Regions from separate parts of the Homo sapiens genome. Here regions 2, 3, 4, 5, 6 and 7 are each linked to region 1. Evidence: fine-mapped expression QTL. A gene starts in region 1. Each other region holds a variant in brackets. All regions are shown on one strand. Distances are from middle to middle.

Region 1 (4,802 bases):
CGTTAAACAAAATGACCAAGGACCTGCTGTATGTTTTAGCCTCTGCTTCTGAGTGTACTTGTGTTCAGCTCAAGTAAACCCCAGAAGCAATCCTATCAATTTTACATTTCTGGAAAAGGGCTCACTCATTTAGTAAAACATGGGATGAGGAATTCATATGTTACATAAATATGTATTTTCCAGGAAGGTTACTCCAAACTGTGCAGACACTGTAATAGAGTAGTGCCAAGAAATGATGCACCTTTATATAATAAGACATAAGAGAAAGTATAATTATGTAGAATATTACCCTAGTTCTAATAACAGTAAACTGTTACATTCGACCATAATAGCTACTTTGGACCAAATGCTATTCTGAGTGCTCTTTCTCCAGATGCTCTTCCACGCTCCCAGCCACACACAGGCATGCACATACACTTTTGATTCTTTAAGTCTATGGGGTACTATTATTGTCATTTCTATTGTACAGAAAAATGAGGTTAAGAGGAGTTGAGTGTGCTGTTCAAGGTTACACTTCTGATAAATAGGTAGCAGATCTAGAATTACAGCCCAGGTGTTTTTAACCTAGGATTTGTGGACTTAATCACTGGGTTTTTCTGCCCCTTGAATTTGGTATTTTTTTTCACTCAAGCCCATCACTTTGTAAATTAACCTGACAAAAACTGAGTTATCTCCTTTTCCTAGAAAATTATCATTTGAAAATTTTCTCCTGTTAATCTTTTAATTTAAGCTATATTGTACTTATTAGCACTTGGCTTCATTTCTTCTTCCCTCTGACATTCTTATTATTTGTCTCAGTGATATTTACTGCATTTTACAAGTGCTGTCAGTCTCTATATTGCGGGGTACCATGCATCCATTGTTTTTAATGTTCAAAAATATAAAAAAGAATCTTATACCAATTTTTGATTAACTTCACGAGACATAGATTAAAACATTTTCATTACTTTTTGTTTTCCATACAGTTCTATAACTAATTTTTTTTTTTTTTTTTTTTTTTTTTGAGATGGAATCTTGCTCTGTCGCCCAGGCTGGAGTACAGAGGAGCTATCTTGGCTCACTGCAACCTCTGCCTCCTGGGCTCAAACGATTCTCCTGCCTCAGCCTCCCGAGTAGATGGGACTACAGGCGAACGCCACCACGCCCATCTAATGTTTTGTATTTTTAGTAGAGATGGGGTTTCACCATGTTGGCCAGGCTGGTCTTGAACTCCTGACCTCAGGTGATCCGCCTGCCTCGACCTCCCAAAGCACTGGGATTACAGGCGTGATATAACCAGCATTTAATTGATACATTCTTGCAGATCCAAGCCAGGTTACTGAGACTTGAAAAAAAATTCTTAAGTTGCTTTTAGTTTTTTCCATCTTTAGTCACATGGAGGGAAGTTGGGTTTTGGCACAAGTTTATTGTAAACTCATAAACTCATAAACAATCAAAAACTGAAGAAAAAAATAAGGCCCACGATACCTGAAATTGTATTTTGATGGAAGTCAGATAAGTAATGTTGTCCTCCAAGAAAGTATAAAAGTTTACTACATTTGTATAGATACTGCTAGAAAATAAATTCACAAAAGTCCTGCTATGATTTGATTCACATCAAATTACTTTGTTCCTGGTGATTTCACAAATAGATTGAGAAAACTGACATTTAATTTCTTGTCTGTTTTATTAGAATTTTTTAAGCGGAAACAAAAGACTTAACTGTACACTAAGAAATCTCTGGGTTTTCATTGTGCCTACATTATATTGCCCTTCCATACTTAAGCCTTAAGATAAAAATCACCTGTCTACCGTCCACCAAAAAGTAATATTTTATTTTTAATCCAGAAAATTGGGTGCCCTTGCTGCATTTGAAAGATGGCTACACACAAGTATTGTGTACCAAAAAGAAATTATTTCCAATATGGGTTAATATTTTTACTATGGAGATGATAAGCTTTAAAATTTTAAATGGTAATTTACCTTTCAAATTAAAAATAAAGAATTATATGAAATTAAAAAAATACTTGTTTATGCATTTGGACACCTCCTGTTTCCACCACCATGCCTAGGCCAACCTTGAACCTCCAAATTTGTGGGTGGAACCTTGGTGCCCACTTGGACCCCCAAACTATCCTCTTCAGGTAAAGGCTCTGTGAGAACCAAGTGCAAGGTGATGGATGGGAGACTCAAGGAATGAGACAGCCAGGGAAAAACTAGGACAGTGAGGTTTCATTTTCAGACATAAAAAGATGTAGAATCAGTTGAAAAAAGGACCCTGTTCCTCTGCAGAGGCAACCACACTTCTGAAGACCTTAGACCTGGCACGGTGGCTCACGCCTGTAATCCCAGCATTTTGGGAGACTGAGGGGGAAGATCGCTTGACGCCAGGAGTTCAAGGCTCCAGCGAGCTGTGACTGTGCCACTGCACTCCAGCCTGGGTGACAGAGTGAGACCTTGTCTCGAACAAAACAAAACAAAACAAAAACGAGGTTGGGGGAAGACATTAGAGCCCTCTGATCTTCTAATAACTCCCAGGTCAACCTTGGGAGTCGTGTGGCCATGTGCTAAAGCGTCCTGGGACAACTGTAAGAGCTCTGGGAATCACTGGCAAATACAGGTGACAAACCTCATGGTTTGGCTAGTGTCTAAATGCGGTCCTTTCCACTTCTGAAAACCTGTCACAGAGGCAGAAGAAAAGGCATCTACTGTTGCAACGTTAGTGTCTACTCCTCCTCCTGTCGTTCATCACTGAGATCTAAGGTGACAGGAGCATTTTCAGCGCCTTCGCCTTGGGGTGCAAACCAGTAGCGCCCATTACGCAGTTAGGAATCCGTCTGCAGATACAATCATGGGAAACTTCCCCTTCCAACGGAACCTTGTGAGGCTTCTTTTATGCGAGGTCCATCTGAGCAGTTTCTAGGATTACCAAGTTTTCATACAGCCTCTGTTAGAACAGCAAGACGCAGCGGGCGGAGAGCTACATCCCTGTAGCTTGACTCCTGGCTGTGCGACTGCACGGTGACATCCAAGGCGGCGGAGCCACTGCCGGTACACGCTGGGCTATGGGGACAGGTTGGGCGTGGCTTTCAGGTCAGCCAGCAGCCAAAATGGGAAGGGAGGAGTCGCAGACGGATTACGCGAAGGCTCTATCCCACGAAAGGACTGGGTGCACCCCAGAACGAGGACGCGGAGCTTCCCTGTTCCAAGCAGCAACAGACTGAGAAAATCCAAGAAAGGAGGCCCGAGGGGCTGCTGTGGCCCCATCCTCCTGGCACCCGCGGCCCGGGCTCTGCGACGCCTTTCGCCCCACCTGCGGAAGCAGCGATGCCTGGCGGAGCCTGCGTGCTGGTGATCGCGCTGATGTTCCTGGCCTGGGGGGAAGGTAAGCGAGGTAGGGCGCGCGGGGGTGGGCGCGCAGTGGCGCCGCGTGGGCGGTAGAGGGACTAGGCTAGACTTTTTGGACGACTTGGGGAGCGTCCCTGTGCGTTTTAAGGCAGCAAGCGATGTTTGTTCCTCACCCGCCTCCTCTCTGTCCCTCTGCTGTCTTTGAAAAGGTCAATTTCCAGCTTGAAAACTCTACACTTTTCTTTTGCGCACATGCGGTTGTTGCCTCCTCTTACTCTACGACCCTTGGTTCTGTTTTTGGTTGTTTCCTGCTGTTATCCTGCTCTTTGAGGTCATTGTAATTTACTGTAAGAAACTTTCGCCGGATCTGCAAGGTATGCTAGCCGCAAGTGGACCTGAATTCTCAGAACAGAGTTGAATTCCATACTGCACGAATTCCACCTCCAACCGGACCCTCAGAAATAATTCATTGGTGAACATTTTATCCCTACAATAAATCACCAAGTTAAGTTTTGTATATCCGTATTATACTGTATTATGGTTTTTGTATATATATGTTAGAATCAGTTTTGGCACTGTAAAAGAGATCTCTGTGGAGCGAATACTCCCCTCCTACTTCTTTAATCCATGACAAAGAACATTTAGTTTAAAATACAGTGAAGTTAAACCAAAACTACTTTCATTAGCCCTTTTTGCTTGTTTTTTGTGTTCATACAGATAGGAATATTAATGAAAGGTGACTTGTTCTTATATTGCAAGTTTCCTTACGTTTTTCAGAAAAAGTCTGATCTGTGTTCAACCATCTGCAGCTTGAAAAAACATTATGTACAACATTTATAGCAGTCCAGGGTATAGTTTTGTCTTATCATTTTTTGATCTTAACTCATTTTACTGATGTAAGTTTGCTTTGTATAAGGGGAATACAAACACTATCCTATACAAAACTTAAAAATAAAATACTAAAATCAAATTTATTATTTTCTGCAATGATATTTTTTCTGGTCCTTCTTTGGTTTGCTTACAGCGTTACTAAATCTTTATGAATAACTTTAAAAAATACATGTAATAACATATATCTGTTCATTACAGTTAGATAAATATTTCCAGGAAAAAAATGACCAATGTTTATAAAGGAAGATGATTTCATGTTTACTATAGACCGCATAACCCTTTTTTGCCTCTATATAATAGCTTTGTAATCTCTCTGCTGAAGACAAATATTACCCATTACCAGGTTTTAAGTTCATAACATTGGTAACATTGTCAAGTTCTTTATGTTTAATGGAGTAAAACTAGAAGACGAGGTAAATGGAAAATGCATTTATTGAGACTTCTTTTTTTCAAATAGCTTTATTAAGATGTTCATATACCATACAAATCACTCAAAGTGTGCGACTCTATGGTTTTTCATTTTCACAGATATGTGTATATTCAGAGTATATTTACAGGTATATGCAGCGATGACCACAGTCAAT
Region 2 (4,802 bases), 140 kb after region 1:
GCGTGTTATCACTGCCCCAAGTGTGCACATACCTGGCTAGGTTGCAACATCACCCAGAATTGGCCTCAACTCTGCTGTCTGATCAGAGTGGGCGCTGACAGCAGGGAGAAGCTGGACAGTGGGAGCAGGCACTTCTGAGCCTGTGGTGGGATGGGGAGTCTTCCCAGGCCACCAAGAGTGCAGAGGTGCCTAGGTGTGCAGCTATGGCTTGGGCTGCCACAACTGTGCCTGGGAGGGCAGGCCTCCTGTCTGCTTCTGGCTTCCAAAAGCACAGGGGTGCCCAGGTTGCAGCCCCGGCTTAGACAGTTGCAATTGTACCTGGGGAACTTCTGCCCTGCCAGCTTGGAAGGGGCAGGGCTCCTGCTTGTCCCCGGCTCCCACTGGCTCCATGGAGCATGCAGCCCCATCCATGCCTCCTGTCTGCATTTTCCTTGCAGTGGTGGCAGGTGAGGTGCAGGTGGTGCAGTGGCCCCAGCCAACCCCTCACAAATGAACCCTATGTTCCTGAGGCCAGCCCTGCGAGTCCCTGTTGCACCTTTGCCCAGGTGCTCGCAGGCTCCCAGGACGCAGTGGGGAGTAAGATTGAGGCTGTGGCAGAGGCCCTGGGCCTGTGAGCGGGTCCTGCCTGGCTGTGCAAGGATGGGGGTGGTACAGTTGGCTGCCTTGGGGAAGTGGGACATAGGGGTCCCACTGCTGCCACCGCTGCTCCTGCAGCAACTCCTGCCACCACTGCCCATACCTCCCTGCTGAAGCCAGCATGATGGCAGCTCCATACAGCCCACCGCTGCCATCACACACATGGTGGAAAAAGCAAAGGGATAAAAAGGGCCTAGCTAGTTTCCTCAAGCCCGTTTCTAAGGGTACTAATCCATTCATCAGAGCTGACCCCACATGACTTAATTACTTCCCAAAAGGGAACAGGAACGTTCAAACCATAGCAAAGATGAAATTTGAAAGACAAGTAACACATTCCATAACAGTAGATTCAGCCTCTTGGGTAGGCAAAACTAGAATTGACCTACATGATATAGCTTGAAGGTGTCTTTCCAAAGACATTTCTTTTTACTAGTCTGTCTTAAATTCCAATTAAAAATTCAATCACACAACATATGTTTATTGATGATCTACTCCGTGTCACACATTGTTAAAAGAATAGAAAATACAACAGAGAACAAAAACAAAGACATTGCCCATTTTCCTTAAACCTTAAGAATTACCACCTGGATAAGGTTTGTCCTATATATGTCCTGCTTATGCTATTATGGACTTGATATTTTCTACTTTTAGAAATTTATGTACAAAAATTACATAAAGTTATATAATAAATCACTTCAATATGTGTTAAACAGGTAGTATTTGCTCTTAATAGAGAGTAAATGTAAATAAATTAATGCAAGGATTTCAAAACTACTTTTTTTTTTTGAGATGAGATCTTACTCTCTCCTTTACTGATTGATTGATTTATTGATTGATTGAGATGGAGTTTTGCTCTTGTTGCCCAGGCTGGAGTGCAATGGTGCCATCTCGGCTCAACGCAATCTCTGCCTCCTGAGTTCAAGCAATTCTGCTTCAGCCGCCCTGAGTAGCTGGGATTACAGGCATGCACCACCATGCCTGGCTAATTTTGTATTTTTTAAGTAGAGACAGGGTTTCTCCAGGTTGGTCAGGCTGGTCTTGAACTGCCGACCTCAGGTGATCCGCCCACCTCAGCCTCCCAAAGTGCTGGGATTACAGGTGTGAGCCACCACACCCAGCCTCTCCTTTATTAATTAATAGATGTCAGTTTATCAGGACTACAATCATGATAATTCTGAGTTTACAGAATGCTCTCTCTCTATTTAAAGGGGGAAGAGGGGAATAAGAAAGTGTTAGAGAGGTATAAAAGGACCATAAACTAGGACCTTCCCCTTCGAGTAAACAAAAAGATACTATGTGATTCATTTTGCAATAAAATTATTATCACTATGGCTTTGAGGATTTATTGTCCTATGAAATCATCTTCTTAAATACAATATATCCTGTATCAGTTACTTGTATTGTGAAAGTCACTCTAGTTTAATTGATATCATTGTAGGATAGAAAGTCTTTCCCTGAGATATTAAGAGGTTGGGTAGAGTACCATAGAGAGGAGTTACATTTCATTAAGGCCTTAAACTTCTCATAGTCTAATAAAACAGAAAATGTGGAAAGAGTTCAAAAGTGAGGAGGAAAAGGACTTACTTCACAACTTTGCCTTTGAACCTGCTAGAAAGTGCAAGATAAGGTAAACAGCAATTTCCATTTTCAAATTTACAAAACTGTTTACTTCCATAGGTAGTTAATATAGTCTCAAATTAAACTTGATTTTAGGAATTTACTTAACTGAGGTGTAACAGATAGATAGATGTACACATGCATGCATTTATGCATGTGTGTTATGAATTTATTTTCTGAGAAAATAAGTCCAACTTGAAATGGTTATTAGGGGAGAAACAAACCCTATCGCTGATGTGCTAGACAGTTTCTGTTTGCCCAACCAGAAACATTATTTATTTCCATCCTACACTGTGTTCTGGAAGACTGAACTT[G/A]TATGAATTCCATCAACAAGCTCCCTTTCCTTTGGCATCCTGTTCATTTGGACCAAAAGGTAAGCTCCAGCAGGAGAATAAACGAAGGGAGAAAAATGAGGTCTGAATGTGTTTTTTCGTTTCTGGCATCCTTTTCGTGGAAGAATGAATCTCCTGACTAAATATCTCAGTTCTTGTCAGGAATTCCTCTTAAAATAGCCCTCTCTATTTTTGTGCCACTTCTTTACTAAGGGTGGTATTAGTGCTGTAATTTATTTGTCCAAGTATAGCACTAACTCTTGTAGTTTTTCTACACCATGTCTACCTACTTGTAAATAGCCCTTGTGTTAAACACTCCTCTAATTACCTAATTTAAATGTATCATTTTTTCTTTTATCCTGCTAGGTCCCTGACTAGCTCGAACAATCTTATTAAGAACTTCATTGGTTTGGGATCAAGTATTCAGCATGTAGAATTAATCTTTCATAAGGAAACCTAGTTTTTAAAATGCCGCTTACTATAAATACCTTATACATCAGAGAAAACAGATATTCTGCACTGTCATTAAAAAACTGGATTCTAGGTGGGCATGGTGGCTCATGCCTGTAATCCCAGCACTTTGAGAGGCTGAAATGGATAAATTATGTGAGCTCAGGAGTTCAAGACCAACCTGGGCAACATGGTGAAACCCCATCTCTACCAAAACATGCAAAAATTAGCCAGGTATGGTGGCATTTGCCTATAGTGCCAGCTACTCAGGAGGCTGAGGTGGGAGGATCGCTTGAGCCTAAGAGGTGGAGGTTGCAGTGAGCCAAGATGGTACCACCACACTCCGGCCTGGCCAAAACAGAGAGACCCCATTTTCAAAAAAAAAAAAAAAAAAGAATTAAAAAAAAGAAAGAAGGAATTAAAAAAAAAAAAACTGTTCTTATTTTCAATTCCATTATATCTTACAGTCTTTTGGGAACAAAGTTATAGAATAAAACAAAAAATTGCAAAAGTAGATAAAATATTCTACTGGTTAAAATACATATTAAAATACAATTTTTCTTGTAAAAATTACTTTTAAAATTTTAGGGTTGGTTCTGGTTGTTTTGAAGTAGCTGGAAACAGATTTAAACTCGCTCATGTTGGGATACAATACAAGCTGGAAAAATATTTTAAATTTAAAAAGCAATAATTTGCAGGCACTAAGAGGCCACCATACAGAGTTATAATTCTTGAGATAAGGGAAGATGTGGTAAGTATCCACATTCACTAACTTTCTTGCTCAGGTATTTTCTGTATAACAACTGAGGAAAATAGAGCCCATTCAGATAGTGCAGTCTCAAGGCAATGAAGCCTACCAGAGAGTGCAGTTTCACTAGGTTAAAAAAAAAAAAAAAAAAAATCAAAGATCAGAGTTTAGAATTACATAGAAAACATTACTGACAGAGGTTAAAGACCTAATAAGCAGAGATACAGATGATATCCTGGATAGGAAGAAAATATTTTAACAGGTGAATCTTCCCTAAATTGGTCTATAGATTCAATATCATTTAAAAATTCTGCATTTTTTTTAGTGGAAATCAAGATTATTCTAAAATGTGTGTGAAGAGTAAAATGTATGCAGGGGAATAAGAAGAGTCCAGTAATGTTGAAGAAGAACACAGCTGTAAAACTCAACACTAACAGATACAAAGACCTATTATAAAGAGACAGTAATTAAGACTGTAATATTGGTGCAAGGAGAGTCAAATAAACCAGTGAAAAGGATACATAGTTCAAGCCCGGTGCGGTGGCTCATGCCTGTAATCCCAGCACTTAGGGAGGCTGAGTTAGGAGTTCGAGACTAGCCTGGCCAACATGGTGAAACCCCGTCTCTACTAAAAATACAAAAATTAGCCAGGAATGGTGGTGGGCACCTGTAATCTCAGCTACTTGGGAGGCTGAGGCAGGAGAATTGCTTGAACTCGGGAGGTGGAGGTTGCAGTGAGCCAAGATGGTGCCACTGTACTCCAGCCTGGGTGACAGAGTGAGACTCCGTCTCAAAAAAAAAAAAAAAACAAAAACGTGTAGGTAGTCCAAAAATAGACCAATATAATAACATCTGCACCTGATTTATTTAGTCCAAAAATAGACCAATATAATAACATGGGCACTCAATTGCAAGTCAAGGGAGACATAACCATCTTCTCAGTAATGGTGTTGGGTCATTTGTATTACGCATTTTTTTTAAGGACATGGGCCTTTATACCACATAAAACTACTTTGAAG
Region 3 (4,000 bases), 40 kb after region 1:
TTCCACATGGCTGGGAAGACCCCAGGAAACATAAAATCATGGCAGAAGGCAGACGGAGGCACCTTCTTCACAAGGTGGCAGGTGAGAGGGAGTTAAGAGGGACGCTGCCACTTTTAAACCATCGAGATCTCATGAGAATTTCCTTACTATCATGAGAGCAGCATGGGAGAAACTGCCCTCATGATCCAGTCAACTCCCACTATGTCCCTCCCTCGATCCCTGGGGATTACAATTCGAGATGAGATTTGGGCGGAGACACAGAGCCAAACCAAATCAAAAACTATAGAAAGAAAGATGTTCACTTGCCCAAACTAAAATTAGAGTGCATATCCGTCTTTATTTTACATTGTGCTGAAGTTAAGTCTGTCTCTCCTAGCGCCAGTCTTGCCCAGTGCTGGGTTTTAAAGGCTCTTCTAGCCTTTAATTCATACCTCCAGTCAAGTCTGTTTAATGTGCCACTATTTTAGGATCCCCAACCCTACGAACATGGGCCCTGCTCAAAGCCTTGCATTCACTTTGTGTGGAATGTGCTCGCCCTGCCACTAAGCTAATGTCTTCTCCTAGCTCCCCTATTACATGTTCAGTCAACGTGAATCGATTCCTGCTCACCTTCTTAGTTCAAATTTCAGTTCCCTTCGAAGATTGGGTTCCTCTTTAAAATCTAGCATTTTGGAAATCAGGTCATGCAAAATCCTTAATGACTTCCCATTTTACGAAGTAATTTTTAAAAACTTTTATTTTGGAATAACTTGATACTCACAGAAAAATTGTAAAAATAATGCAGTTTCCAGTAATTCTTCACCCAGTTTCTCATAAAGTTAATATCTTATTTATAAACCATATTCATAAAATAATTATTCAAATCAGAAAATTCACCTCGATACAATACTATTAACAAATTTACAGACCTTGTTCTGTAAATTTACCAGTTGTCCAACTAATAATGGTCCTTTTCCTGATTCAGGATCTAATTTAAGATTTTATACTGCATTTTGTCATGTTTCTTCAGTCTCTTTCGTATTGTGACAGTGCTCCATCTTTCTTTATCTTTTGCACACTTGGCTCTTTTGAATATTGTGACGGTGCTCCATCTTTCTTCATCTTTTGCACACTTGGTTCTTTCGAAGAGCACTGGCCAGTTATTTTGTGGAATGTTCCTTTTTTATGGTTAGATTGAGGTCATGCCATGTTGTACAATTTTTAGTGCATCCTTTCATGATGCAATGTATCTAATCACGGGCAATGTAAATTTTGATCACTTACTTAAGGGGTTTTTGCCATGTATCTTCACTTTAAGCTCCCTGTTTTTCCCTTTTTAACTAATAAATACGTTGTAGGGAGACACTTTTAGATTATGCAAATATATGATAGCTCCTCAAACATTTTCTTCCTAATTTTAGCATCCAACTATAATTTTTGCTTGTAGCAATTATGACTATGGTATTTACCAGTGGTGATTTTCTATTTCCATCATTTCTTCTACACATATTATCTGGAATTCTACTGAAAGGAAGAGCTGTTCCTTGTTTCCAATTTATTTATTCATTTATTTACTCATGCCAGT[G/A]TAGACTAATGGAAACTTATTTCATGAATTATAACTCAATGCTATCATTCTTTATTTGGCTGTTTAAATTATTCTAGCTTTGACCATTGGGAACTATTACAAATTCGTTCACACGTCCTTTTAACTTGCTCCCATAATTTTTTGAACAATTTATCACATTCTGGCATCATATGATATTCCAGACTCATATTTTTCCTACCCCAACTCTAGAATCAACTGTTTCTCTAAAGACTGTAGTTCCATTTATCAAAGAGGGTCATTTAAAATCCAAGACTTGGGTGCAAGGTGTGCTTCTTGTTACAGGGTAGTTAATCCTTCTTGGCCCTTTTAATGGATACAGTTAGAAAATCTATGTATGTACACTTATACACACACGTAACTACCTATCTATCGGTTTATCTATCTGTCATCTCTGTGAGTTGATACTGATACTTCTGATTTCAGTGCAGTGCCATAAGGTTCATTCTAGCCTTCTCCTTTCCTTATTTGTAACTCTTTTCTTTACAAGTGAAAACTGGCTCTCATGATCCACAATATATTTACCTGGTTTCTCAATCTAAATGTATATGTAAGTCAGTTTCAGAAATTCTAAGCCTTTCCTCTGTAAAAAAACAAATTCATGAAACAAGGTCACAATATAAAGGCAGATACTGCTTTCCAAAGTGAGTTAGATTAACTATTTTCCACTCTGTTTAGAGTGGTTATCTGTTTTATTTATAATACAACTAGGTTTTAAAAATATTTGTCTTCCATTTTGAGTTTCTTCCACACTCTGGTTGATTATAATTATTTAATTATTTGGAGGGTATATGAAATATTATAGTTCTAAGAGTTGAAGCTATACAAAGGTATGCACATAGAATTGTTACTTTCTTGTCATCCCTGTCATCTGCTTTCCATCACTCCTTCTTTTCATTAAAGTATGTTTCTACTGTCATCATTTTCTGGTTAATCCTTACTATATTTCTTTGGTACAAAAAATGGATAGAAACTCTTTTTTTAATATAAAGTGTAACATATTTTACATGCTTTTTTCTACTTTTGTATTAGTAGTTTTAAGCAAGTCTTTAGCTAGAGATTCAACCACTTAAGCATTTCTTTCACTTCCTCCCCCAAAGCAGTCAAGACTCTACAAAATCCAATTTTAAGGTTGCTGATTTATAGGATTAAATACAGGATGTTAACCAAGAAATGGATGGCACATTATGATTTAGCTCTTGTCTATATTTGTAGGCTTGAACTTCCTGTTTATGCTGTTCCATGCATCCCTGTCTTTTTCATACACTATTCCCTCCATTCATGTGAATTGCACTCTTTCCACTTCTGCTCCCAGTGTCCAAATAGCAGTCTCCCTTTTTATTTTCAGGAAGAGAAGTGTTTGCTTTTTTGAAGGCTTCTTTGACTGTGCTAGTTAGTTAGACTTAATAACTCCTTTTGTATTATATCTTATTTGAGTCTCTTTTAATGCAATAATACAATTATATATTGTCTGTCATTTTCTTTGTGATCTTTTTTCACTGAGATATTTTCAGCACATAATATATACTCACAAAATATTGATGAATGAAAAGGAAATAGAACACTGTATATTCCTCATTTTGGGTAGGCCCCTTGAAATAGAAAGTTGGGAATAATCTCTATATTGCCAGTCATTAGCTGGAGCTTTCTTTCTGCACAAGAAACCGAGACTGTACATTCACCTAAGTGTAGATATCATGACTACTCTGAGAAATCATCATTCTTCTTCTACAAGAGGGAAACCACTGGTAGATCTGCTAGGCTAGACTCTCCATACTCCCTTAAATATGGAGATTTGCAGCTCACTCTTTCAATCATCAAATCTTCAAAAACGTAATTTCTGTTAGCTGCAGATTAGGGTGATCATGTTTTCCTTTCCCTTTCCTGCTGACCCACAATATTGAAGCATCAGCATGCTCTATGACAAATTCTGAGTGGTTGAAAACATTTGACAGTAATAAGTTTCAAAGAAAAATCTAAATCTAAATTTTGACAGCAAAATATAGCTTTTGGTTTCCTACGTAGTTATCCGTACCTGGAACATTATGCTGGCTTCTCTTCTTTTGGGACCAGTGCATTTTCATACTGAAAAACAATACTAAAAGTGTAGCTTAAGCATAATGTGTCACTGAGTTATTAAGTAGAGTGAACTAAGTAGAGTTTATTTAGTTTCAAATTACTAATAAACTAACTTGAGCAAAAATATTTATTATGAGGATAGTATATTTCTTAGAGAATCAAGAATAAGAAAGTAGCTGAATTCTCAAGAAAAATCTTGAACTTGGGACTTGAACACCATGAAGACTCAGTATGTGTGCATTTTTATGTGTGTGTGTGTGTGTGTGTGTGTATGTTTGTCTCAATTTGGCTTTTGTTTGTGGGCTTCATTTTCCTGTTTCACTATATACTGGCTTTCTC
Region 4 (4,000 bases), 51 kb after region 1:
TCATATGAATATTTTCTGTACATTTAATAGATGTAAATATTAAATAAGTAAATATATAGTTAATGAGCTGATATTTTTCTTGAAGATACCCATTTTAACAATACAGTAGAACTGAGCAGAATATTTATGTGTCTTCTAATTTTCTTCAGCACTTTTTTTTTTTTTTGAGACGGAGTTTCACTCTGTCGCCCAGGCTGGAGTGCAGTGGCGCCGTCTCAGCTCACTGCAAGCTCCGCCTCCTGGGTTCACGCCATTCTCTTGCCTCAGCCTCCCGAGTGGCTGGGACTACAGGCGCCCGCCACCAGCCCGGCTAATTTTTTTGTATTTTTAGTAGAGATGGGGTTTCACCATGTTGGCCAGCATGGTCTCAATCTCCTGACCTCGTGATCCGCCCATCTCAGCCTCCCGAAGTACTGGGATTACAGGTCTGACCTCTTCAGCATTTTAAAACAAAAATTTTATCATTGGGAACTATGAATGTAGATCTCTTTTCTACTTCACTGTAGACTCTATTTGAAAGAATTCAAATGTTGATTGCCTCATAAATTTTAGTATAATAAAGGCTACCATCCACGTATGACTGAATTTACTCGTTCAGATGAGTTGTTAAGCATTTCAAAGAGCACCACATCAACTCAAAAACTTTGATTAAGGACGGACTGACTTTCCTAACACAAACAACTTTCATGAATTTTTATAACTAGACTAAACAATTTGTCCTTAAGCTAAACAGACAACCATCCTAAATAACTTTTAAAAATTACTGACTTTTTAAACAAAGTTCAAATTACTGCTGTAATATGAAGCTTTTTGCCTTAACTATTAATGGAGTTCTTAACTCATCTTATTTACAAAAACAAAATCGTATGTACTTGAAAGGTCTGGTTTAATATTAAATTGAATGTAATTAGTGACTTTATATTTGATTATACAGTAAGTTTTAAAAACAGCATACTTCTGTCCTCATAATGCATAGCAGCTCTTTTGGGGTTAGAAGGACAGACATAAAAAGTAGAAGTTATATAATAAGACAATTGGACATACGATGTTTTTCAAATTAAATAATCTGAGCTCTTGATCTATATTTTATACAGGCAAAAATTGCCAGGAAGATGTTGATGAGTGTGACTCCAAGCCTTGCTTTGAGGGAGTAGCATGCCTGAATACCTTTGGTTCCTATCATTGTGGTTCATGTCCAGAAGGATTTTATGGGGATGGAAAAATATGCCATGGTAAAAGTTTCTATTTTCTGCTATGAGATTTTTTTTGCTGCAGTTAATTATTTTTTAATAGCATAGTTTCTGTTTTTGACTCATGTATTTATTTAGTGTAAATGCATTAAGTGTCATGCATTGAACTAGATACAAAGGATGCAAAAATATATAAGACATGTTTTCTGACTTAATAGGTAGAGTGTAACAGCAGGGAATATGACTAGTAATTACAGAGTATAATAAAGTGTTCTGTGTCTTTTGATAGAAATCACAAAAGGGCTAGTAGGAATACTACACAGGGAATCTTATCTACCTGGAGAAATAATGAAAAAGTTTTAAAAAAGGAAGCGACTAGACTATACTAGACACATGAGAACTGAATCTGATAGATCAAGAGA[G/A]AGAAAGGCATTCCAGGCAAAACCAACAGCAGGAGCAAAGGGACAGAAGCAGGCAACATCACAGCACTCCTTGGGCAGCCAGCCACTGTGAATAGTTCAGTGTGCCTGGAATATAGGAAGAAAGGGGAGCTGCTACAAGAGTTGGAGCTAGAGAGGTAAGCAGTAGCAAGACCACATAAAAACCATGGAGACTCTCTTAAAATTTTGAAGTGGGAGAGAAAGACAATACAGTTTACATGTGAGATAGTTTAAGGAGCAGTGTGTAGGATGGACCACTTGTGGGTAGGGAACTGTGTAAATCTGAAGGTGGGAAGAAGAGTTAAGAAAATACTTCAAATATATAGGAAAAAAGATGAAGATATATTAACCTAAGATGAAGATGAGGTAATGATGAAAGGGATAATAAAGAAGCAAGTTGATTGTACTTGGCCAGTGATTGGTTTTAGCATGATGAGAGAAAGAGATTCATTAAGTTTTAAGTGTTTGATTTTAGTGAATGGGTGTGTAGAATTTGCATTTGCATTGCTGTGGATAGAACTGCGTCCCCCCAAAATTTATATGTTGAAGCCCTAACTCCCAGTGTGGCTATATTTGGAGAAAGGAAGTAATTAAGGTTAAATGAGGTTATAAGGGTGGAGCCCTGATCCCACAGAATTAGTATCCTTATATGAAGAGACACCAGAGAGCTTGTGATGTATAGACAGAGCAAGAAAGTGGCCGTCTTCAAGCCAGGAAGAGAGCCCTCACCAAAAACTCAGTCAGCTAGTTTGATCACTTTGGTCTTGGATCATTGAGCCTCCAGAATGGCAAGATAATTTCTGTTGTTTAAGCCCCGCAGTCTGTGGTATTCTGTTATGGCAGCTCAAGCTGACTAAGACACACAAGCAACGTAATGGAAGAACAAGTTTTTTTGGAGGGGAATTATAATGAATTCAGTTTGGATGCACAGAAACTAGGGTTACTATGGAATATCCATGTAAGCTCAGAAAGGAGGATTAAGTTGAAAATATAAATCTTAGAATAATCAGCTATGTCATAGAATTGTCCAGGAAAACCCTTAGATTTAGAGGAAAATGGACAAAAAAAATTGGTGGGCATCAACATTTTAAAAGATTAAAAGAGAAAAAACTAAGTTATAGAAGACAGTGTTGAAGATCCATACCTTTGGTTTAATTAAGTGAATGGGACCCTTTTTGATGACAATTATGTACTAAGGAAGCAGCAGCATCTTGTGCTTCAAATTGGGCTGAGCCTGCCCAGCCCCACAGATATGAGCAACACAGTATAGGATGGTAAGGGGAATTCTCTACTTCTGCTTCTCACATTTACTCCTGAATATCCCATCCCTAATATTCACACCTTCCATTGTAATAAGTGATCTAGCCGTTTTCTTTCCCAAACAGACCCATTTCTTCAATAAAAACTTCATTCAGTGGCATTTAAGAGAAAAACAAGTTGAACCAAATCCCCTTACACATGAGTGACTAAATATGTTTCTTAACATTGTCAGAGTCATTTGTGTATTGTAGGAAGGGGCTTATTAATACAAAAGGACTTTTGGTTGTTGGTGGTGTTTTCTTAGTTTTATGATAGGTACCAGAGTCAATGGATAGCAACATGAATAAAGCACAGTTATTCTTGAGGTTATTGCTAACTAGTGGGGCACATAAGAATCAATAGCATGAAGGGCAAAGTTCTGTGGGAGAACCCAAATGGGCAAAATTGATCGGGTGGGTGAATTCAACTGAAGGAAGGTACGTTAGCTTGGGCTGCTATAACAGATTGAGGGGCATAAACAACAGAAATTTATTTTCTCACAGTTCTGAATGCTGAAAGTTCAAGATTAAGGTGCGAGTAGGGTTGGTTTGTGGTGAGATATCTCTGGTTTGCAGACTGGCTATGTTCTCACCAGGTCTTCCCTGCATGTGTGGTATCTCTTCCTGTTTTCGTGAGCACACCAGTCCTATTGGATTAGGGTGCCACTCTTATGATCTCATTTTATCTTATTTACCCCCTTAAAGACCCTGTCTCCAAACATGTTCACATGTAGGAGTAGGGATTTAACATATGAATTTTAGGGGAACACAATTCAGTCCATACCAGAAAAGTGTGCAGAAGAGATGACATTTAAGTGAGTTATTCAGTCTAATTTGCAGAGTTTAATCCAAGTGGCGTTTGTATTGTATATTCTTATTTGTGGTGCTTTGGTTGTCTAATAGTTTAAGTCTAATCTGTTTTCCTTGTTCTCATTTACAGTTGAAACACAGTTTGTAAATCAATTTACTACACAAACTGTGGTTCTCACAAGATCTGATAAAAGTGTAAATAAAGAAGAGGATGATAAAAATGCCCAAGGGAGAAAGAGGCATGTTAAGCCAACAAGTGGAA
Region 5 (4,802 bases), 38 kb before region 1:
ACTGTGCAAAAAAGATACACATATATTACCCCAAAATGTCCCTCTTTGCCCATTTGGACTCAACATATCTCCTACTCCCAGCTCCTGGCAACTAATCATCTATTCTCTGACCCGATAGTATTGCCATCGCAACAGTGACACAGAAATAGAATCAAACAGCACGTAGCCATTTAAGTCTATCTAGTTTTACTTAGCAGAGTGCAACTGAGATTAATACTTATAAAAGTTCCATATTTGCTTTGTAGCTCTAGGACTGTCTGTTCAACAGTATTTCTTTTTGAACACAAGCTGTCAGTATTACTTTTATATATTTGCAAGAAATAAATCATTTTTTATGTTGGAGAGAGTCATGTTAAAGTTTATTAAAATACAGCTTGGCAATCACCGTGCAAGCATGAATGAAGATTAATGGGTCCAACAATAAGGGGGCATAGAGAGCAATGAATGTGACTCTGTGGAGACCACTTCTTTTGGCATGGAATTTATAACTTCTTCAACACTGGATTTATTTCTGTTGTTTCATTAAATGGTCTTGTCAGTAAGAAATCCTGGGAAAGGTATCTTAGGAAGAAGAAATAGGATAAACAAAGAAACAGCAGTATGAGGACATCTGATACATTTGACCTCACAGTGCAATACATTGTAGTTACAGAAAGAAGTATGAATGAATCACAATTCTCTAAACTGTCAAGTGAATGGATTAAGGTGGATGGTCTATAGTACCTTTTTAGCATCTGATATTCTGTAGTATAGACATAATACCACTGAGTTGTGTCCTGCTAAGCAAGTTTAATATGCAATAGATTGTAGTGTGAGTTGAAAAACAATAGACAAATTCTTGGGAACTTGTTTAATTATTATTTTTTAATTGATAGAGCCATTTGGCAATAACTGTATATCAACTTAGCTTTTCTCCTTTTTCAAAGCCATTTTGTTGATGTATGACTTATGATTAGCAGGCAAAAAGCTGGATTTTAAAAAAATGTATATGACTTGATTAATTTGGAGGTATGTATACATTTGTGAAACCATGACCAAAATCTATTTCATAAATGTATTCATCACTACCAACTCTTGTTTGTTTTAAACATTTGAGAGAAAAAATTGGAGAACAAAGTGGCTGAGTTTTTAAGCTTGGTCTCTCAGCTTAGGGGGTTGCAGAAGCAACTCTATCTACTAGGACCAATCATGGGCCTTATTTCTAACTCCACTACAACCTACTGAATAACTGTATCCATTCACACCTTTGTATTCCTTATCAACACAATTCAGAGTTTTAGCAGATTCAACTTTATCAGACCAATTTTTTTTTTAGGGTCATCAATGACTCAGTTACTGAGCCATTCCCTGGGAATAACATCTTGACTAAACATAATCTTTATCTTCAAGGACCTCTCATTATTCAGTGGAGTAAAGACACGGGGAAATGGGGAATTTTCATGCAGTCGTTAGAGGTAAGAGCTGAAAATGTTAGGTATATGGTGCTATGGGAGTCCTTGTTGGTGGGTCAAGAAAACACTGGAAAAACTAATATGTCAGCCGAGAGTTAAGCCTGAGTAGGTGATAGTCAGGTAAAAGGTAAGGAACAGAAAGCCTTCTGGCCTGGGAAGCACTATATAAAAATATGAGGAAGAGCTTGACCAGATTAGATAACTGAAAGTTGTTGAGTGTGGGAAAAGTGGTATATTCTTGTGGGAAAAAATGACAAAAATGGAGATGGGACCACTCTGAAGAGTCTTGTAGTTTTTGGGCATGGGGCTTATGCAAAGGGCAATGGGGATGAATTAGCAGCTTTTCAACAGGAATGTGGGCAAAAGCAAGAAAATAATTTAGACTGTTTGTAAACTAGATGAGAGGCTATGGTGGCCTAATCATGCAGTATCAGAAGGGAAGAAAATGAATGGAATTGAATGATGTTAAGGGAGCACAGAGGTTTTGGGGACTGCCAGACAGTGAGAGCTGCAATGAAAAGAGGCAAGGATGACTTGAAGATTTCCAGTTTAAGAGAAATGAGGGAATTATTCCTGCAATAGAAAATTATGAAGGGAAGTTTTTCAAGCAGGTGTGTGAATGGTGCAGGGTTGGACATATGCCCAGGGTTGGACATATTGTGGTCTGAGAGACCAGGGGGCAGCTCTTCAATAAGAATTTCAATCTACAAGTATGAAGTTAGGAGAGAGGTTTGAGCTGAGAGCTCTGGAAACATCATCATATAAGTGGTGACTGATTACACAAGTTGGATAGAGTCAAGTTGCTCCTTTCATTTCTAAAATCCTGTGAATGCTGCAGAGAAAGAAGGATGCTGCTGTTGCAACATTAAAGTCTTCTCCCTCCCACCTTTCTCACTGAGACCGAAGGTAGCAGGAACACCTTCTGAGAATCACGGTCATTTTCATGGACAATCAAGCACTGGAGATAAGACAGTTAAGGATGTGTGGGCAGGGATGATAGGGGCACTGTCCCTTCCAACTAATCCTTGTCAGGCTTCATCTATGGGGAGCCCACCTCTGCAGTTTCTACTACATGAGGCAAACATCAAACTTTCTGGATGAACCGAGATGTGTAATGTTTCACTTGTCAACTGACAAAGACAC[T/C]CTCCTGTATGACTTGTGCACTTGGATGTTCAGTGTTAACAATGTTGTTAACAAGAGCTACAGTCTTATTCCACCCCTCTTTTGAAAGATCTATGTAAATCCATGGGCTTGTTTGTTTATTTGTATTTATTGCAAAATAATGCCGAAGCACATATTTCTGATTCATGCTATAAAACTGGAGAGGTTTCTTCTTTAGGCCCATGGAGAAAAGCATGCAGTGCCTAGTCATGCTTATCCAATGAAGCTGATTAGGCCTGTACTTTCTTTTCCCACTAGCTCACATTTAAATTTTCATTCCTATCTAAAATTTAGTAATAGCTCAATTTATCAAGTGATTACTACATGCAGGAATGGGGATAGTGGTTTTCATTCGCTATCCCATTTCACCCTCACCATAACCCTAAGACATATATATTTATACCCTTATGTTAGAAATAAGGGAGCAAAGACACATTGGGACCTACAACTAAGACTCTGGAAAGGTCCTCCCAGCCATCAAGTCTAAGCTCTTAATTTCTGCACAATCAGATCAGACATCTCAAATCAGAAATCGCTGTATTATTGAACTATCATTTGGACACTGAGGTCACAGAAACTATGCCAGACTTACTGAAGTCATGAAGATTTCTGATCCTCCATTCCCTCATCTAGAACCTCTTCAGCAGAAGTTGCTGATTGGCAGTTGTCTTATAGTGCTGTTTCTTTGGCCTGAACAATGTTTTTGTTTTTTAATTTTTTAAAATAGTTATGGATTTAAAATATAAAGTGTATTACAAACAAAAGAAGAGCCCTTTTCTTTCCAAGGAAAAAGCAGAATGGAGTTGTTCGTGGCAAAAAAGTGAATGGAGTTGTTTATAGCAAAGTCTCAAGTGTAGGCCAAAAGGGACTGGGGACTGTGACTGAAAGAAAGAAAATAAAATTGCTCCCTCCCCAAATGCAGCCCCAAATCTGAAGATGGCTAGGTGGTTCGGAAACTATCCCCAGGTCACTCTGAGATTCACACAGCCATTGCTGAAGATGATAGATTCAAATGATGGAAGGATCTTGAGTCACTAGGTCACACGTAATAGAGTCTCCCGCACTCTGAACTGCTGGATTGTACCGAGACAAGTTGGCAACACTGGAAATCCATGAAATGTGAAGACATTTCAGGTCTGGCTGATTTCTCCCAAATTCTTACAATTGAAACCCAAGCAAGGTAATACTTTTGCTGAAGGCTTTCATTCCTCAGTGTCTGGCAAAACACAAAGGAAGGAAGGTGATTCCTCCCAGAGGAGGGAAATTGCTATGATCTTAGTAAACAGGATGGATGAGGCATCTACATCTTGTAGAAGGAACTTTCAAAATCCAGAGAAGAAAGAGCCTTACCCAGGGACATGGGCACATGAATCCACTACTGCAGTCTGCCCTACAATTATATCTTGAAAAGCTCATGTATGGAGCATGGGTTGTGACATGGTGCTGACTGGATCTCTTGGGTTCTGTAGGATCAGGTGTAGCCTCTGGTCACAGCTCACGGGCTAATCTGTTTAATCTGTTCTAGCGGTATTCAGCTCTTTCCATCCACACAATGTACTATACAAATAATAACCCTTTCTATTTTGGCAGTAACTGGACCAAAATTCATGAGCACTAGTTTATAACACAAGCTTCTTTTTAATTTCAACTCCACTGATGGTTGGTGCTGATGCCAGGTACTTGGCTTGGTTTGAGGTAGAACGCTAACAATATTCCAGACAGGCAGTTATGGTTCACCAGTTGTTGGTCAGAGGCAGAGCTGCAGTGCCCACACAGAGCCATGGAGAACCTGCCATCACCAGAAAAATGTCCTTCTGGCTAGTCCTGGAGCATCTGCAGTGTTCTGATGATGTTGTCTGGATTAATCTTCCCTTGAAAATCTTGGTATATGCAACTTTGGTTGTTTTTATAGTATATTGCTGATGTACATTGAAGGAATGCGAGCTAGCTAAAAGATTTTCTGCCCAAGTTGAAGAATACAATCATGTCGGTTTAAAGATTAGACCGAATATACATGCCTTTGAAGCCCTCAAGTCACCTGCAATGGAGACTAGTCCTCTGAACTTTTGAAATTTTGTGTTTGTCAGCACTTAATAAAGATGTGAACCAGGTCCACATTTTCACTGGAAGATACAGTAGACCTTGACAAAGAACAAGCGGGAAAGGCCTCTAAAATGTCATTTAATAGAG
Region 6 (4,000 bases), 59 kb after region 1:
GCCATTTTCACGATTAAATATCATATATTTTATTTAAAGTCCCTTATATGTTGAGATATATTTCTGAGCTTTCTGTTATGTTATTATTTTCTAATAGTCTTTTTTATGCCAATAATACATTGTTTTTGATTAGTGTGGCTTTATACTACATTTTAGTATCTGTAAGGCCAATATCTTCTCATGATTCTTGTATTTTGTAATTTTTATGATATCTCTGATATATACCTTCATAGGAACATTGAATCATTACATTTCAAAAGAAAAAATGTGCTTTACTAACATACATTTGCTAACATATGCTCTTTTCTTACTTTCTTTAATGGTAATTTTTGTAATCTGGAGTTTCAGTTCTTCTCTGCTTCTTTCTCCAATTCTGACAATAAAAACTCTCCTAAGGAGAAGGTTCACTTAAAACAATTTGGTTCTGGAAGGAGTCCCTTCTGTGTACAGAGGCTGAGGGAATGGGACACTGACTTGGCCCAGATCATCTAAAGCAGTTCTTCTGGGGACTGCTAGTCCAGGGCACTTTTGCTGTATTTTTTGACACAACTGTGCTTACCTCACTGCCCTTATTTATGTTTGGGGCTATATTTGGTGCACTCTTGTTTCTATTAGTCTGAACCCATATGCTTTTTATGTTTCACGAAGTCCTCACATTTTTCAAAAATCTTTCATTGCACTTGTTGCCAACTATGTTAAGGATTATTTTTGTTGTTTTTGGTTCATTTTCTTCTGTCTTTTTCTGGTTTTGGTTTGATTTACATAAAATCTTAATGCTTTGAGAAGCATTAAGTGTTTTTTATATTTTAAGACCTTTGAGAAGAGCTTTGCATGAAGACAGTGCAAAATCAAATCCTAAATTTGCAATAGAAAGCATAACAAGAAAAACGTATCTAATCACTGCTTAAAATGTGTTCATACTCTAAAACCCGTTAGATTTTTCCATACCAAAGAAGTAAAAAAGTGCAATAAGGAAATGAAGTATTTTGGCAGGTGAAATAAATAATGATCCCCCCCGCCCCCGCCAAAAAGATGTGTAAAAATGTTTTAATTTCTAGCTGAGCAGTCAAGAAAGATGGGGACATAAAATCTGATTTTATCACATTTGTAAAATTATTAGACCTGTGGTTCTTTGCCTCTCATATAAAATAGCATTTATATAATTTCCCAATTTTTGCTTATACATTTAGTTCCTGTCTTCTTTATAGGGAAAATTACTTACTCTTCTGTGTTTCTGTAGGTTTCATTTTATATTTATCACTCTTGTAGTAGTTCTCAATGATTGTTTCATAGTGAATGGCTCACATGTCTCTATCCTTGACAATATTCTAAATTGCTCAGGCATAGGGGCTGTGCTTTCCTTTGTTTTGAGGCTCATGTGTATGAGGTGATCAACAGGTGTTTGTTAGCCATTTCAAAATCTTAATGAAATAAATTATTGTACTTTGACTTTTATACTATTTAACATTCTGGGTTATCTTGTGTACCCCAAAAGATTATAAGCTCCTTGAAGGCAGAAACAGTGTCATGATTTCTTGTTAGTACACAGCTCCTACTACAATGTTAGACATGTGTAGATACTAAATGAAGGAATGAATTACTTAATGTAAAATATTTCAGGTAGAGAAGACTATTTATAAATGCTATTGACTAACGTTTTTTATTTTTTGGTTGTGTAGCTATAAATTTTCAGCCACCATCAACAGAATATTCACTAATTAGTACAAGATTTACTCCTACTCCCGCTACTATCAAAAAGTTACTGAGCACAACTAACAACATCTCCCGCTCATCACTGAAATTAATTACAGCCCAAATGGATAATTCAGTAAAGCCTATTTCCCATCAGATATCAGATATTGAACATGTGGATCGTAGTCTCAGTACAAATCTCAGTCTGGGTGAGTTGGAAGTTTCTGTGAAGAACAGTAGCTCTTTAAGCAGGAACCCAAACAACACCCATGGCAAAGCAAATGATGATATCCAGAACACCATCCAAACAGAGACAGGAGGGTATATTCTCAAATTAGCAGGTCTTCCCAAGGTTACACACAGTATGAAGATGAGTTTGTGTCATCTATTACAAAAGCAATTGCTATTTTGCCAGAAAAGTTTGGATCAACCAAAATATCACCTTGTGCTGGCTAGCCTTGTTTTCTTGGTGTTTCCTGTGTGCCAAGCTCAGATGGTCACTTCCAATGTGGACGC[T/G]GCCCCTTTGGGTATTATGGAGATGGTATCAATTGCAGAGGTAGTATGAAACTCTTCAGAAGATACAAAGAAAATTATCTAATTCAAGTTTAAGTTATTAAAAAGATATGCTTTTCCATATACTAATTTCTATTTATTCTGCTTAGTTCACTTATTTCCGTTTATTTTATTTATTGATCATTTATACTGTATTCTCATCACATTTTGAAAGAACAAAAGTGGGTCTGCTGAGTTATTTATTAAAATCATGTTAATATTATAGAGTATTACAACTATATAATATATATTACAAATATATTTGAGTACTTTCTGTGTTCCAGGGTCTGTGGAAACATTTTGTATCAACTGTGTCATATTATCCACATGAACCCCACAAATTGGGTATTATTTTTCCCATTATACAGATGAGAAAACAGAGTTTTGGAGTGCCCACTGAATTTCCCAGCATTAATCAGCTAAACAGATAAAAGATGTCAATATAGATCTGATTAACATTGTGGTCTGTATTCTTTTCAGCTCACGGTGGGCATTTGGCACTTCAAATACTAATTCTGGCATATTTGCTTATTTGCATGAACTAGGTTTCTCTGTAATCTTTCCAACTCTTTCGAGATTACAGCAAGTTATATATCACTTTAATTTTAAAGGCATTGTTTCTATCTTCTCACAATTATTAACATTGTTTTCTCTGATGAAAATCAACTTTTTGGCTTTGGCAACATAGAAGCTGTCTTGTGTTACTGTTGTGTTACTGTTTTGCTTTGTTTGTGTTTTGGCTTGTTTGAGACTAAACTTAAGCAAGAGAGTTGTTGGAGTATTCTTACGTTCTCAGTATTATCTAGAGGGACTATTAGTTAACTATTCAAACTTCAGAGACTTTTGCTTCTATCATAACTAAGTCTCTGAGCAATATGTATGTTCTGTTTTAGCAATCAACCTTTTTTTCTTTGATTTTTTTTTAGCCATTTGTAAATATCCATGTGGAAAAAGTAGGGAGTGTGTTGCCCCAAACATCTGCAAATGTAAACCTGGTTACATTGGTTCTAACTGCCAAACTGGTAGGTAACATCATTCATTAGTTTGCATGATAAATTGTATTTGGTAATTGATATGTCTAAAACTTGGGCTTTATTTTATACAGCTCTTTGTGACCCTGATTGCAAAAACCATGGAAAATGTATTAAGCCTAACATTTGTCAGTGTCTTCCAGGACATGGTGGAGCAACCTGTGATGAAGGTGATAATTCAAATTAAAAATCAAATATAAGGCCTAAAATATAGCATAATTTTCTTTAAAAACCATTTTACAAGACAATTCAGTTTTACTGTGTATATATTAAAATATTCTTATCAAAGCTGGTATAGGACTCTACATTTTAAAATACTTATTAAATATAATTTATTCAAAGATTCTAAAGAATTAAATTTCTGAAATCAGAGATTCAAGGGGCAATAGCTTATTTGTTATTGGTAAAATTACCCTCTGAAATGATTTGAGGTTTAGTTATAAGGTACTATATATCTACAAATGTTTTAGCTTCAAGCAAAGACAGCTATTGAATGATCTACCAAATATGGTTCAAATAAAGTGTTAAATGCCAAATAACTAGAAAATGTAAAGTAGTAAGAAGAAACCTAAAAAGTGAATTTGTAAAAATACATCTGTAGCCATATAATTGCATTGCTTTGGTTTAAATCTTAAGCGGAAAATTTATGAAATAGCATTCCTAAAGTGGATGATACTTTAAAGAAATAAGTTGTTTATTTTAAAATAATATGTGAAAAGGTAGTT
Region 7 (4,802 bases), 73 kb after region 1:
AACTATTATATATAATTTTGTGGTACGCTCATTTTCACTCAATATTGTTTGAAAGAATTTATGTTGTTTAAAAACAAAATTTAAAGCAATATATTAAGTTCCATAATATAAATACTACAAAAATTCCCTTTACTTCCCCTCTTATGTTTAACATTTTAGTTATTTACAAGTTATTATTAAGTATTATAAGTATTTTCTTTCTACAGGTAGATGATAAATAGATTGAGATATTGAGATATTGAGATAGATGTAGGTATTTTTAATTGCCTTGGGAAAGATTTCAAGTAAGAAATGTATGATATAGACAGCATGAGTATCTTTCAGAAATTTTCAGTAGTTATTTCACATTAAACTTCCAATGATAGTATAAAAATTGTCAAATTTTCCATACACTAGCCAGTACTGGGTTGTCTCTTTTAAATTTTTGCTTAATGTTAAAAAGTAAATTATAGATGCTATCTTCTGTTAATGACTTCAGCTCCTCTAGAAAAAAAAAGAGATATATTTCAAATACTTCAAAATGTAGCCAATGAAATTTTTGTTTCTTTTAATAATATCTTTATAGAATTCCAAAAGTGTTGTTTGAATTTTGGGTGCTTTGTTTTTGATGTGTGCGTGTGCTCTGAAAGACAAGAGTACATAGATTAGATCCATTCATTGATGGTTCATTAATAGATTCTTATGACTGCATTGGTGTCCAATCACCAGATAGCCCCAGACCACTAGGATAGAATATGCCACAAGCATTTCATGTCAAAGGATGGTCATTGTAAAAATTTGTGTATTGCAGCAATTTGCAACCCAAAATGTCTTTATGGAGGCAGATGCATATTTCCCAATGTGTGTTCCTGCCGCACTGAATACTCTGGAGTCAAATGTGAGAAGAAAATACAGGTATTTCAGAGTTTAAAGAGAAAATAAATATTAGACATTGACATTTGCATATCTCTTCTACTTAGTAATTGTTACTAATTAATGTTTTTTTATTATTTCCAAAATAAAAAAAGCATTTATTTGCCTCTAAAATTAAAAATTGTATCATTTTTGTGTTTTGGTAGAGTTATTATATAAAATTTTGATGTGTATTTAAGGAATTTCAATGTATAGATACAACTGTCCAATGTAACGCAGTATTTCATGACACTGTAGTTGAGACAGCAAATGTTCCACAATATAGATTCAAGACACTTATTTGTAGGGCCAGTGCTATAAAACATATATTTAAAAAGTTTCTGTGATCTTATTTCTTCATATAGGATTAAACTGCATTGTGTTTTGTCTCTAATCTTAAATTTCCAAATATCAACAGCCGAGATGTTATTTCAGTCCTAATTCCTATACACACAAGGGTAGTTCTAATAATCTCTCTCTCTCTCATACAAACATACAGACAAATGCAGCAAACCTCTCAAAAATGTCTTAAAGTTAATATGTAGGAGTTGTAATTTAAAAAGTCATTATATGCTATTTAGCACTTCAAAATGCCCCAGGGTCATGAATATAAAAGTATGCTGGAGTACCAGAATTTGACAACTGATTAGAAATTTTCTTCTTGAAGCTTGATATGGATCAATTTGGCTTGGAGACAAAATGGATATATGTATAGTTTTCTCCGAGCACTGGTGTCATCCTGTAGGATTGGCCCCCATTGTGAAAATAACCAGATCATAATAGGGCTATGGTTTGAAAACTGGAAAGCAAAAGTTATTGAGTACTTATTTGATTAAATATTGTTTGAGAAAAATAAAAATAAAAGCTTGAGCTTCCTTGGGTTTGAAGGCAGCCTAAGTATATATTATTTGATTTGATTTGATGTGAGATTTTTATGGCACAGAAAACCCTATGACCTCTAAAGCTTTTTAACTCCACTTTGACAGTACTAAACTAGGTGGCTGCTCTATATTCTATTTTATGTATTTATTTGCCATCTGAATCCTTCCTCATATGATCAATAGCAAATCATCTTTATCCCCATTAATGCTGCTTCTAAGAATGCATTTAAAATCACACTAAGGGGAAAAAATGCCAGAAGGCCATGGGGAAGGAAAAGGGCATAAAAGGCTAAGCATGAGGACAATATGTCCTGTTCTACTGTAACCTGCTCTCCCAAGCTTCTAACTTCAATCTCATTCTGGCTTTATTCTGTTGATCACTGGTGTC[T/ATTTT]TTTTTTTCTTTACTTGCTTTCGATATTTCTTTGTCTCCCACACATAGGTTAAAACATAAATTTCTCTTTAGTGGGGAAAAAAGCAATCACCATCCATGGGTATCCATAGAACCTTCTCCAACTCCATCCCTTGCTCCCCTCTTCCCTACCTTCCCCAAAGGAGGGTTCAGACTGGCTAACTACCTCCTGGCTCTTCCTCAGGCAACCTGAGATAGTGGGTAAAAAAAAGAAATGGAGCTTACTGATTGCATTGCTAGAATTTCAATGAAAAAGAATTACTGGCTAGAGACAAGAAACACAGAGAAAGGGAAAATAAGTAAAGGAAGAAAAAGGTGCTAAAGAGGGTGGGTTGATAAAAGGCTTTGAGAAGCATCATAACCTCCTGCTTGTGGCTGAGTGCACTCACTCTGACCCTGCCACTTATTTGCTCTGTGATTTCAGGCAAGTTTAACCCCCTCAGTCTCAGTTTTCTCATCTGCAATATGGCATTAATAGTAGCACCTAATGTTAGGCTTATTGTAAGGATTAAATATGTTAATATATGTGAAGTACCTAGAGTGGTGCCTGGGACATAACAAGCACTATGTAAGAGTTTGTAACTAATTACATCCAATAGAGGAATAGAAAGAGGTGGAGAAAGAAAAGGATGGGGAAAGACACTTCAGAGAAACACTGCAATGTGTTATGAGTATCAGTGGTTTTTTCCTGAGGGATATCAAAACATTAATTAGTTTTATTGGGCATGGATGTTTCTAAAGTGTAACATTTTGCCACGATGGAATCACCTAGTATGCAAGCTCCATTTGGTTATGACAGCTTGGACCTTAAGTATGATCTTGATTTGATTTCAATTTTATGAAAACAGTATTGAGTCTAGTGGCAAACAGAACCAAAAGAGCTTTACGTATCATGTCAGAGGGAAGGAGGCAACAAATAATGAGTAAGGGTTAAATGATTTTATACTATTCATTGAAACACAATTTCCTTCTTCCTACTACAGATAAGACGCCATTGAGTAGCATCAAGTATATGAATTACAAGCCTGTATCTTAAGAATGGAAATATTTTGTTCAGAAAAAGTTGGAGATAACTTGGAGTTTATTTGAACATCATTCAAAAAATATCTTAAAGACTGAAGAAACTAATAAAATACATAATGATCTCTGTTGTAATCATAGAGAAAAGCAAAGAAGAAATCCAGGTAATCTAAATTTGATGTTGAGATGGGATAGGATATTTACATATTGAGATGATGTATCTGATATTCCACCCATTCACAATATTTAATAAACTGAATATTTTCTCAGCCCTAACTGTGACTATGTCTGCATCATTAGGAGTCAGTCAGCCTAATGGAAGCCACTTGATATCATCCTAATAAATGATGCTTAATGCAGAACGAGGGGCTCACAGAAGTAAGTATTTGAAGAATGGGGAATGAGGGTTGGGAGCTACAGGTTAGGAAAGCCACCGCTGATCAGAGTAGGTAATAATGAAGACGTTAGCCCAAAGCTCCAAGCAGGTTCTTTTCAGAGGCTTTCCCGGAGCTGCTATAATACTTGAGAATCTTTAAAAACTACCACCAACTGTCTCAGGCAAAGTGGATTATTCTCAAAATTTTGCTAGAAAGCCACTGTGAATTTCATCTTTCCAAGCATCAAGCTGCAAACACCTCTGAAAAGACTGATGGCTTCCTCTTCATTTCCTTCTTCTGACTCTCCAGCAAATTTTTCTCATTGGCAAACTCTGACCCAGAACCACACAGGTAAGTGGATTCTGAAAAATGTAATTCCCAGCCTTACAAAAAGTGGCAGTGGTGTCCTGGGCCCAAAAGTGAGAAAACAAACACCAGACATGCTAAAAGGTCTGCATCTGATTGCTCTTCCATCTTTCCATTTTTTCTGTACCATGATCCATTTTGGTATATGAATCGAGAGAGATGATCACAAAACCAAATCCTTCTACAGATATCACAAGAAAAGTGTATCTGGATGCTTAATAAAAACAAAGTTAAATTACAATACATGAATAGTTGGGGAAGTGGGTAACAACAACAAGGAATACACATATAATTAAAAGATTTGCCTCAGAGACCCAAATAATTGCAAGTTACCTGGGGTTATAAAGTTTCCTTTTTCCTGCTATCTCATATTTTACCTCAGACATTTCATTTGACTTTCAGAAAACAAGTTATTTTAATTTGAACATGACCATCTTAAATCATATACATTTACAAAGGCTCATTTTTTTTCTTTTAAGTAGAAAGATTGAGCATTCCTAAGCCATATCTAACCTGTAAGATAAAGTAAGACGCAATCAGAATAAAAGTATTGCTACATATGCTAAGGACTCTTTAAGTATTAACATCCAATGTCAGAATTAAAGAGTTTTTAATTTATCATTTTATATTTACTAAAAGGTAGTTTTAATAGATTACTTAGGAGAACATAATATAAACCAAAAATAAAATTTAAAGCCTCCCAAACAATGGAAAGAACTCTTCTCGAGTAATTGAATTCCAAAGTAAACCTGAAACATTGGTTCAGGACATCATGGGAATGGATGATCGGACATGCCTCATTATACCCTCATCCCTTTGTAATTCAGGCACAACCCATCAGCATTAACATCAAAACAGAGA

Alleles and levels. Alleles are on the strand shown, and positions count from the first base shown. SD is a standard deviation of normalised expression in the study named. Not every link is listed here.
For the expression in kidney cortex of the gene that starts at base 3,158 in region 1, T is the high allele of the variant in region 7 and ATTTT is the other (moderate effect, 0.61 SD a copy in GTEx).

The links. PIP is the estimated chance that this variant, and not a neighbour inherited with it, causes the effect.
Region 2: its variant is fine-mapped to the expression of VWDE in whole blood (TOPMed, PIP above 0.99).
Region 3: its variant is fine-mapped to the expression of VWDE in whole blood (TOPMed, PIP above 0.99).
Region 4: its variant is fine-mapped to the expression of VWDE in whole blood (TOPMed, PIP above 0.99).
Region 5: its variant is fine-mapped to the expression of VWDE in whole blood (TOPMed, PIP above 0.99).
Region 6: its variant is fine-mapped to the expression of VWDE in whole blood (TOPMed, PIP above 0.99).
Region 7: its variant is fine-mapped to the expression of VWDE in kidney cortex (GTEx, PIP above 0.99).

The regions. Positions count from the first base shown.
Region 1 is chr7:12,402,221-12,407,022 of GRCh38, reverse strand. VWDE (von Willebrand factor D and EGF domains) reads left to right here and starts at 3,158. Exons shown (of 29, transcript NM_001135924.3): 1 at 3,158-3,364. The coding sequence starts at 3,307. It overlaps LOC105375154 (a long non-coding RNA gene), which reads right to left and starts at 885. Exons shown (of 3, transcript XR_927035.4): 1 at 1-885. RefSeq lists silencers at 2,236-2,425, 3,363-3,412, 3,306-3,600 and enhancers at 2,737-3,302, 3,303-3,870.
Region 2 is chr7:12,264,878-12,269,679 of GRCh38, reverse strand. No RefSeq gene overlaps it. Among named protein-coding and RNA genes, the nearest start is that of TMEM106B, 56 kb to the right of the region's middle. The variant G/A (reference allele first, on the strand shown) is at 2,568.
Region 3 is chr7:12,362,153-12,366,152 of GRCh38, reverse strand. All of the region lies in intron 13 of VWDE (von Willebrand factor D and EGF domains), which reads left to right. Among named protein-coding and RNA genes, the nearest start is that of VWDE, 40 kb to the left of the region's middle. The variant G/A (reference allele first, on the strand shown) is at 1,565.
Region 4 is chr7:12,351,582-12,355,581 of GRCh38, reverse strand. It overlaps VWDE (von Willebrand factor D and EGF domains), which reads left to right. Exons shown (of 29, transcript NM_001135924.3): 19 at 3,869-4,000. Among named protein-coding and RNA genes, the nearest start is that of VWDE, 50 kb to the left of the region's middle. The variant G/A (reference allele first, on the strand shown) is at 1,613.
Region 5 is chr7:12,440,323-12,445,124 of GRCh38, reverse strand. It overlaps LOC105375155 (a long non-coding RNA gene), which reads left to right and starts at 1,326. Exons shown (of 3, transcript XR_927036.2): 1 at 1,326-1,454. It also overlaps the pseudogene LOC100419641. The variant T/C (reference allele first, on the strand shown) is at 2,595.
Region 6 is chr7:12,343,640-12,347,639 of GRCh38, reverse strand. It overlaps VWDE (von Willebrand factor D and EGF domains), which reads left to right. Exons shown (of 29, transcript NM_001135924.3): 20 at 3,171-3,266; 21 at 3,350-3,445. Among named protein-coding and RNA genes, the nearest start is that of VWDE, 58 kb to the left of the region's middle. The variant T/G (reference allele first, on the strand shown) is at 2,209.
Region 7 is chr7:12,329,557-12,334,358 of GRCh38, reverse strand. It overlaps VWDE (von Willebrand factor D and EGF domains), which reads left to right. Exons shown (of 29, transcript NM_001135924.3): 28 at 791-894; 29 at 3,162-3,474. The coding sequence ends at 3,176. Among named protein-coding and RNA genes, the nearest start is that of VWDE, 72 kb to the left of the region's middle. RefSeq lists an enhancer at 4,470-4,802. The variant T/ATTTT (reference allele first, on the strand shown) is at 2,161.